Homo sapiens: one gene and its partner. The protein of the gene in region 1 interacts with the protein of each later gene in a pairwise test. Each region holds a gene or a part of one and is shown in the gene's direction. Other genes may lie near its edges.

The links.
Region 2: the proteins of TXLNB (region 1) and BTF3L4 interact in binary tests that used the Homo sapiens proteins (3 or more experiments, as listed by UniProt).

What each region holds. Positions count from the first base shown.
Region 1 is NC_000006.12:139,243,469-139,247,124, reverse strand, and holds part of TXLNB (beta-taxilin), read left to right. Parts: intron 1-2,434; coding exon 2,435-2,530; intron 2,531-3,656. UniProt on the Homo sapiens protein: Promotes motor nerve regeneration. May be involved in intracellular vesicle traffic.
Region 2 is NC_000001.11:52,059,295-52,062,950, forward strand, and holds part of BTF3L4 (transcription factor BTF3 homolog 4), read left to right. Parts: intron 1-540; 5' UTR 541-553; coding exon 554-607; intron 608-3,656.

The sequences.
Region 1 (3,656 bases):
GAATATACAAAAGTAGAATGTTAGAATAGGAAATACCATCTTATAAGAACCTTCTTAGAAGAGAATTTAACTTATGTAATGTAATATAACTGACAGAGCCTTGAATGAGAAGATGGAAGCCTGAATTCAATTCTGGTGTGTTCTTGCTCATCAAGTGGTCTTACTCATCAATTCACTTAACTTCCTGAATCTAATTTTTTTTTTTTTTTTGAGATGGAATTTCGCTCTTGTTGCCCAGGCTGGAGTGCAATGGTGCGATCTTGGCTCACTGCAACCTCTGCCTTCCGGGTTCAAGCAATTCTCCTGCCTCAGCCTCCCGAGTAGCTGGGATTACAGGCATGCACCACCATGTCCGGTTAATTTTATATTTTTAGTAAAGACGGGGTTTCACCGTGTTGGTCAGGCTGGTCTCGAACTCCTGACCTCATGTGATCCACCCACCACGGCCTCTCAAAGTGCTGGGATTACAGGCATGAGCCACCATGCCTGGCCTCTAATTTTTTTTAATCTATGCAGATACTACTTTCCCTGCCTAACTCACAAGATTGTGAAGTTAAATTAATACATTTTGGAAGGGATTTTAACTTTTTACATGTATTTTTCAAATATAAGGTGCCAGTATTATAATTTAATGTAATGTTTAAAGCTTGTTCAGTGTCTTCCCAATACAAAATCAGCCATCAGAACTGTGTTTCCGAACAGGGATTGGCATTAATGGTTTTGAGGTGTAGAAAACATCCTCTTAAAATATATTTTTAAAATATTATGACAAATTTTACAATGAGCAACCTGAAGAAGATTGGCACTTGTTAAATGTTACAGTTCTCCCACTTCAGAATGGAACTATCCATTTGCTTAATTTTTTTTTGAAATTCTAGCATTTTAAGATTGGAATAAATTAGAACAGGAAAACATGTTTTTCAAAATTATGTAGTTTTAAGAGTGGAATAAATATTAAATCAGGAGTTCTTAATCTTGGGTCCATTTATGGACGTTAGTAGTTGACCTGAGAACTCTCTAGAAATTACCATAAAAAAAAATGATGCACATATGCACATTTTTGTGAAGTGTGGTCCCATAGCTTTCACCACATTCTTAAAAAGATTGATGACCTTAAAGTTTACAAACAACTGGCTGGGCGCAGTGGCTCATGCCTGCAATCCCAGCATTTTGGGAGGCTGAGGCGGGTGGATCACTTGAGGTCAGGAGCTCAAGACCGCCTGGCCAACATGGTGAAACACTGTTTCTACTGAAATACAAAAAAATTAGCCAGGAATGGTGGCAGGCGCCTGTAATCCCAGCTACTCAGGAGGCTGAGGCAGGAGAATCGCTTGAACTCGGGAGGCAGAGTTTGCAGTGAGCCGAGATCACGCCATTGCACTCCAGCCTGGGCAAAAGAGTGAAAAACAAACAACAACAAAAAAGAAGAAAACAAAGAAGTTTACAAACTACTAACTAATTTAAAATATGATCAAAATTAAAAACCTAGCTTGTCTGTAGAGCCAGGGGCTGACAGTCTTGGGCCCAGCCTCTGGCCTCCGTGGGTACCCAGCTTCAGGCAGCTTGGCACCAAGCAGCGAGTGCCCAGCTATGTTTCATCCAGGAAAACTGCACCTGAGTACATGCCTCGTTCTCCACTTCATCTAAGCAAAGAAGAGATCCTACAAACAAGAATGTGAGTAGCCTCAGGTTCGAAAAACACAGGCTGCATTTTATTCACTTCTTACTTCCTCGTACCCAGCCCAGGGCCTGGTGACCACCAGACATTCTATATGCTTCATTAAATGAAATAAAAGAATGGCAGCCCCACTGTTCTGTTAATTCACCTAAATATTACTCTACCTCTCCGAACTTCGGTTTCCCCATTTATAAAATGGGGGTGAAAATAGAACCTTCCTTGTGGGACTGTTTCAAGGATGAAACAAATAATGCATGTAATCACATTTTGTGAACTCTACCTCACTCTATAAATGTAAAGACCCAGAAAATACAGAGACTGCTTTTGTGCAGCAACTTCTCAGATGTGCCCAGATATTATCAACATTTTAATGGCTAAAAAGGCCATGCCAGCTTTCCCACTGTGATAGTCTTCTATTCAATACAGTAAATATCCTAAATTACAGGCTTGTTCATGGAACTCCATAAAGATATTCTTCTTTTAAATGAAAGAAAAAGCAGTGACAAAACCATGTGCCCCTAAGTCATTTCCCATTTCCTGAATTGGCTCAGGTGCAAATAAGTTTGCTTGCCACTGCCCTAGACGGCTCAGAAATAAATTATGACTCTGCTACAATCTTCATTCTTGACATTGAACATTTGTTTGCTTCAGCATCTGGTAACAAAAGGGCTTCTCCTGGTCTCACATATGGAGCTAATAGCTTCCTTGATATATTAACTTTTCAAGATTAACACACACTCACTCTAATTTCTGTAGACAACTAAGAAAATGAAGAAGCTGGAAAAGGACACAGCCACATGGAAAGCCCGATTTGAGAACTGTAACAAAGCTCTGTTGGACATGATTGAAGAGGTGAGGAAGTTTCTCCCTTAGCTTTAATCCCCTCTGTCTAGTCAAAACATTCAAACTTACGATACAATTATAACCTGGTAATAGTACAAATGGTTATGTGTGAAAAAGAGTTGAATTTGGGGTGGCAGGATGTGACATTTTAAATTGTAATAAGTATAATAAGAGCAAAGGTCATTTAGAATCAGGTCCAGACTCAGAAAGAGTTTTGTGACCCTAAGTCACATGCTTACCTGTTGATTCAATAGCTGTACCCAGGGCAGCTGTCCCCTTTAAGGGCTGTGAATTCCTTAAAGGTAGGATGAGTGTCTTATTTTACTTTAAATTTCCCCAGTGTCTGACACATAACAGGTGCTGAATAAATTAATTAGTTGATTTGAACATACTGCGAGAAGACACCAGCCCAAGAGTCCAGTGCATGTGCTATTTTCTAATATAAACAGATATGGAGATATCTTTTTAATTCCTCCAATAGACATTTAAACACTGATCTCATGCCAGGCTCCAAGTAGGTTTTGAGAGTCCAAAGGCAAAGATACATGGCCCCTGACCTGAGAGGTAGGGCTTACAGGTGAAGGTCTCTCCATGTATAACGAGTGGGGGAAAAAAGGTCTCAAAGGGACAGAGTAGCTCAGAGGTGAGGTGAAGGAGTGAGATAATTAGGAACATTTTCATGCACAAATAGACATTTCTAGAGGAAAAAACTGAACCGTTTGAGCAGCCAGCATCGTGAATTAGTATATGGTGAATTTCTATGGTTATAATTACTGCTCTAACAATTCTTCTCAAATTGCAACCAATTCCAAAGAGATATTACTCATCAACATAAATCAAATGGCTGCTGGGATTAGCACATAGCAGTTTATTCATAGAACAGATAAGGAAGGCATTGCTGAAACCCAAGTCCCAATCCATCTCATTTATCTTGCCGCAAGTCTTGCTTCTACCTTCTAAGTCTCAGAAGCAGAAAATTCATCCATAAGATTTGAGAGGCTATGGACCAAAGCAGAAGGAAGCCTGACCATCTTTCTTTCCCAATGAACAGGGTATGGTGATTAAAGAATCTACCAGTCTAGTACACAATGCCAAAAAAAAAAAAAAAAAAGGAAAGTGATGTCCATGACCAAGC
Region 2 (3,656 bases), on another chromosome or scaffold:
ATGACTACTTGATATCTTGACAGCTAGACAGCCTTTTGTTGAATTTCTTCTTTGTTCAGCTTTTTTTTCCTTTTGTCATCTTTATGGTTTATAAGAAATACAGAATGTGATTTGGGAGGAAAAAAATCTACTTGAAGATTTTGCTAATAACATTTGGTAACAGCTCTCTGCTGTAAAAATCTTTGGGGGAAAAAAACTGGCTTGCCTACAGAGATTTCATAATTGGTTAGGCTTAACTGAATGCCAAAGGATTGAATCATGTTTTAAGGAGGGATCTTTGAATAGGTGACTTTGAATCCCATTCTACTTTCTGTTTGTATATTTGATTCCCTCATGGTAATTTAATTTTGATTTTTAAAAATATCTGGTTTATGAAGCTAGAACAAGTTATTAATGTTTATTAAGAATATAGACAGTATTAATATGGTCATGGTGTTGATGCATACTACAAGCTCAGTGAACCAGAAGGTACTGTTGCATAAACAGTTTGTTAATTTCGGCAAAAGAGTGACTTTAACAAATCTATTTTTCCCCCCCTAGATTTACCAACAGCATGAATCAAGAAAAGTTAGCCAAACTTCAGGCTCAGGTCCGGATAGGGGGCAAGGTGAGTGTGGCATAAGAAAAATTGATAGGAGAATGTATGATTACCAGATAGTGTTATTATTTCGGATTTGTGGTCATTGAAAATCTAAAATCTTTTCAATAATCAAGATCAAACCACATTCCAATTTGAAAATAACTTGTCTAGATCTAAAATAGGTAACTAGAACACTTTTCTCTCTGATGATGCAATGGAAATAGCCACATTTGTTTGAATCCTAACTCTTACCATCTGCTAGTTATATGATGTGAACAAGTTATCCAACCTTGTTAAGCTTCCACTTTCTTATCTGCAAAATAGAAATAATCCTACATAAGGTGTTTAAAGATTAGGGTAATATTTATAAAACACCTAATGTGGTGTCTAGCACAGAGTAGATGCTTAATAAATTATAGCTATTATTATGGTTAGACTCACTTGCAGGGCATACCAGATGTTAGGGTTACTTTGTCTTGACTGGATGTTACCTACTTGTACAGAGGTTTAGCTGGAGATGCTTAAGTTGATTATATATTTTGTTCATTGCCAGGTTTTCCTCACAAATTCTTACCTGTTCTTCCATGTTGGTGAATATGAATATCAGCTTTCTTATTCCCTGTACTTTTTAAAGCCTAAGGAAGAACTAGTTGTGAGCAACTGAAGTCTTTGATTCTCTTCAGCTGTGGCACCAGGCTCAAGGAGAATATTCTACCCATATCTCTGCCCAACACAATCTTTGCAAAAGTGAAAGAAAGAATAGTACTTACCTCAGACCTGAAGTGGTAGGTAGGACACTACTTTTTGTAGTGGGTCCCACTGTGTCATTTACACTGATGATAACCACAGTTCCTGGGGATGAGCACAAGGGAAGGGAAGGGAAGAAGAGCCAGTACTTTCTCCTTCTCCCACAGTGATACAGTTATATGAGTCTGGAGTTAGAATAACACACTCATGTAACCACAGTAGTCACATTGTAGCATCAAGTGTGATGTGATGTGCCAATGCAGAAACTAGGGATATTCAAGAACCATAGAATATACCTAGAAGAGCTTGATGTACCACATCGCCATTGTGTATTTTAAAACTGTGGTTGGTACATTCGATTTAGCTGTTGTATATTGAGCACCTACTGTGTGCCAGCACATAGAAGATAAACAAGATCACAGCTCTGCTTGGGAGAGAGATGCTCACAATTATAACGCAGAATAGTGAGTGTTATAATGAAGTACAAGGTACTCTTGCCTAGTGGAGACAAGGAAGTTATCACTGAGCTCTTGTTTAAAGGATAAACAATTTATCACTAGGCGAAAAGGTAATGGCTGGCAGAAAGGTAATGGGTGGTGGCTCACGCCTGTAATCCCAGCACTTCGGGAGGCTGAGGTGGGTGGATCAGTTGAGGTCAGGAGTTCAAGACCAGCCTAGCCAACATGGTGAAACCCTGTCTCCACTAAAAGTACAAAAATAGCCTGGTGTGGTGGCGCATACGTGTAGTCCCAGCTACTTGGGAGGCTGAGGCAGGAGAATCACTTGAACCCGGGAGGTGGAAGTTGCGGTGAGCCAAGATTGCACCACTGCACTCCAGCCTGGGCAACAGAGCAAGACTCCGTCTCAAAAAAAAAAAAAAAAAAAGAAATAGGTAAGAGGGTTCATGAGATAGAGTAAAAAGGGTTGTCATTTCCATACTTGCAAAGGCACATATGGTGCTAAGATAACACAGTACTTAATGGAATGGCTTGCTTTAATATGGTACAGCTATTCTTTTTTTTTTTTTTTTTTTTTTGAGACGGAGTTTTGGTCTTGTTGCCCAGGCTGGAGTTCAATGGCACGATCTCAGCTCACTGCAACCTCCGCCTCCTGGATTCAGGCAATTCTCCTGCCTCAGTCTCCTGAGTAGCTGGGATTACAGGCATATGCCACCATGCCCAGCTGAATTTTTGTATTTTTAGTAGAGATGGAGTTTCTTCATGTTGGTCAGGATGATCTTGAACTCCTGACCTCAGGTGATCTGCCCATCTCGGCCTCCCAAAGTGCTGGGATTACAGGCGTGAGCCACCGTGCCCGGCCTCTTTTTTTTTTTAAGATGGAATCTCTCTCTGTCGCCCAGGCTGTAGTGCAGTGGCGCAATCTCAGCTCACTGCAATCTCCGCCTCCCAGGTTCATGTCATTCTCCTGCCTCAGCCTCCCAAGTATCTGGGACTATAGGCACCCGCCAGCATGCCCGGCTAATTTTTTGTATTTTTTTCAGTAGACACAGAGTTTCACCATGTTAGCCAGGATGGTCTTGCTTGATCTCCTGACCTCGTGATCGCCCGCCTCGGCCTTTTTTTTTTTTTTTTTTTTTTGAGACGGAGTCTCACTCTGTCACCCAGGCTGGAGTGCAGTGGCGTGATCTCGGCTCACTGCAACCTCCACCTCCTGGGTTCAAGCGATTCTCCTGCCTCAGCCTCCTGAGTAGCTGGGATTACAGGCACGCGCCACCACGCCTGGCTAATTTTTGTATTTTTAGTAGAGACTTGGTTTCACCATGTTTGTCAGGCTGGTCTCAAACTCCTGACCTTATGATCTGCCCGCCTCAGCCTCCCAAAGTGCTAGGATTACAGGTGTGAGCCACCGCGCTCGGCCGGTACAGCTGTTCTTTAGTGTACGTAATGGATAGAGAATGGCAGGAAATGAAATGACCAGGTAGTTTGGGATTCCATTATACTTTTATATGCCATACTAAGGAGCTTGGAGTTTTATCCTATAGGCAGTGGGCAACTATTAAAGGATTTTAAGAAGGAAATGACTGCCATTTTAGAAAGGTAGCTGCTGGCGTTGTGGAAAATGGAACAAAATGGAAGTTTGGCCTATAGGCGAACAATTGAGACGCTATTGCTAGAGTCTAAGGCAGCAGTCCGCAATCTTTTTGGCACCAGGGACTGGTTTCGTGGAAGACAGTTTTTCCACGGATGGGAGGATGATGGTTTTGGGATAAAACTGTTCCACCTTAGATCATCAGGCATTAGTTAGATTCTCATGAGGAGTGCGCATCCTAGTTTCCTCGCATACGCAGCTCACAACGGTTCGCCCTCCT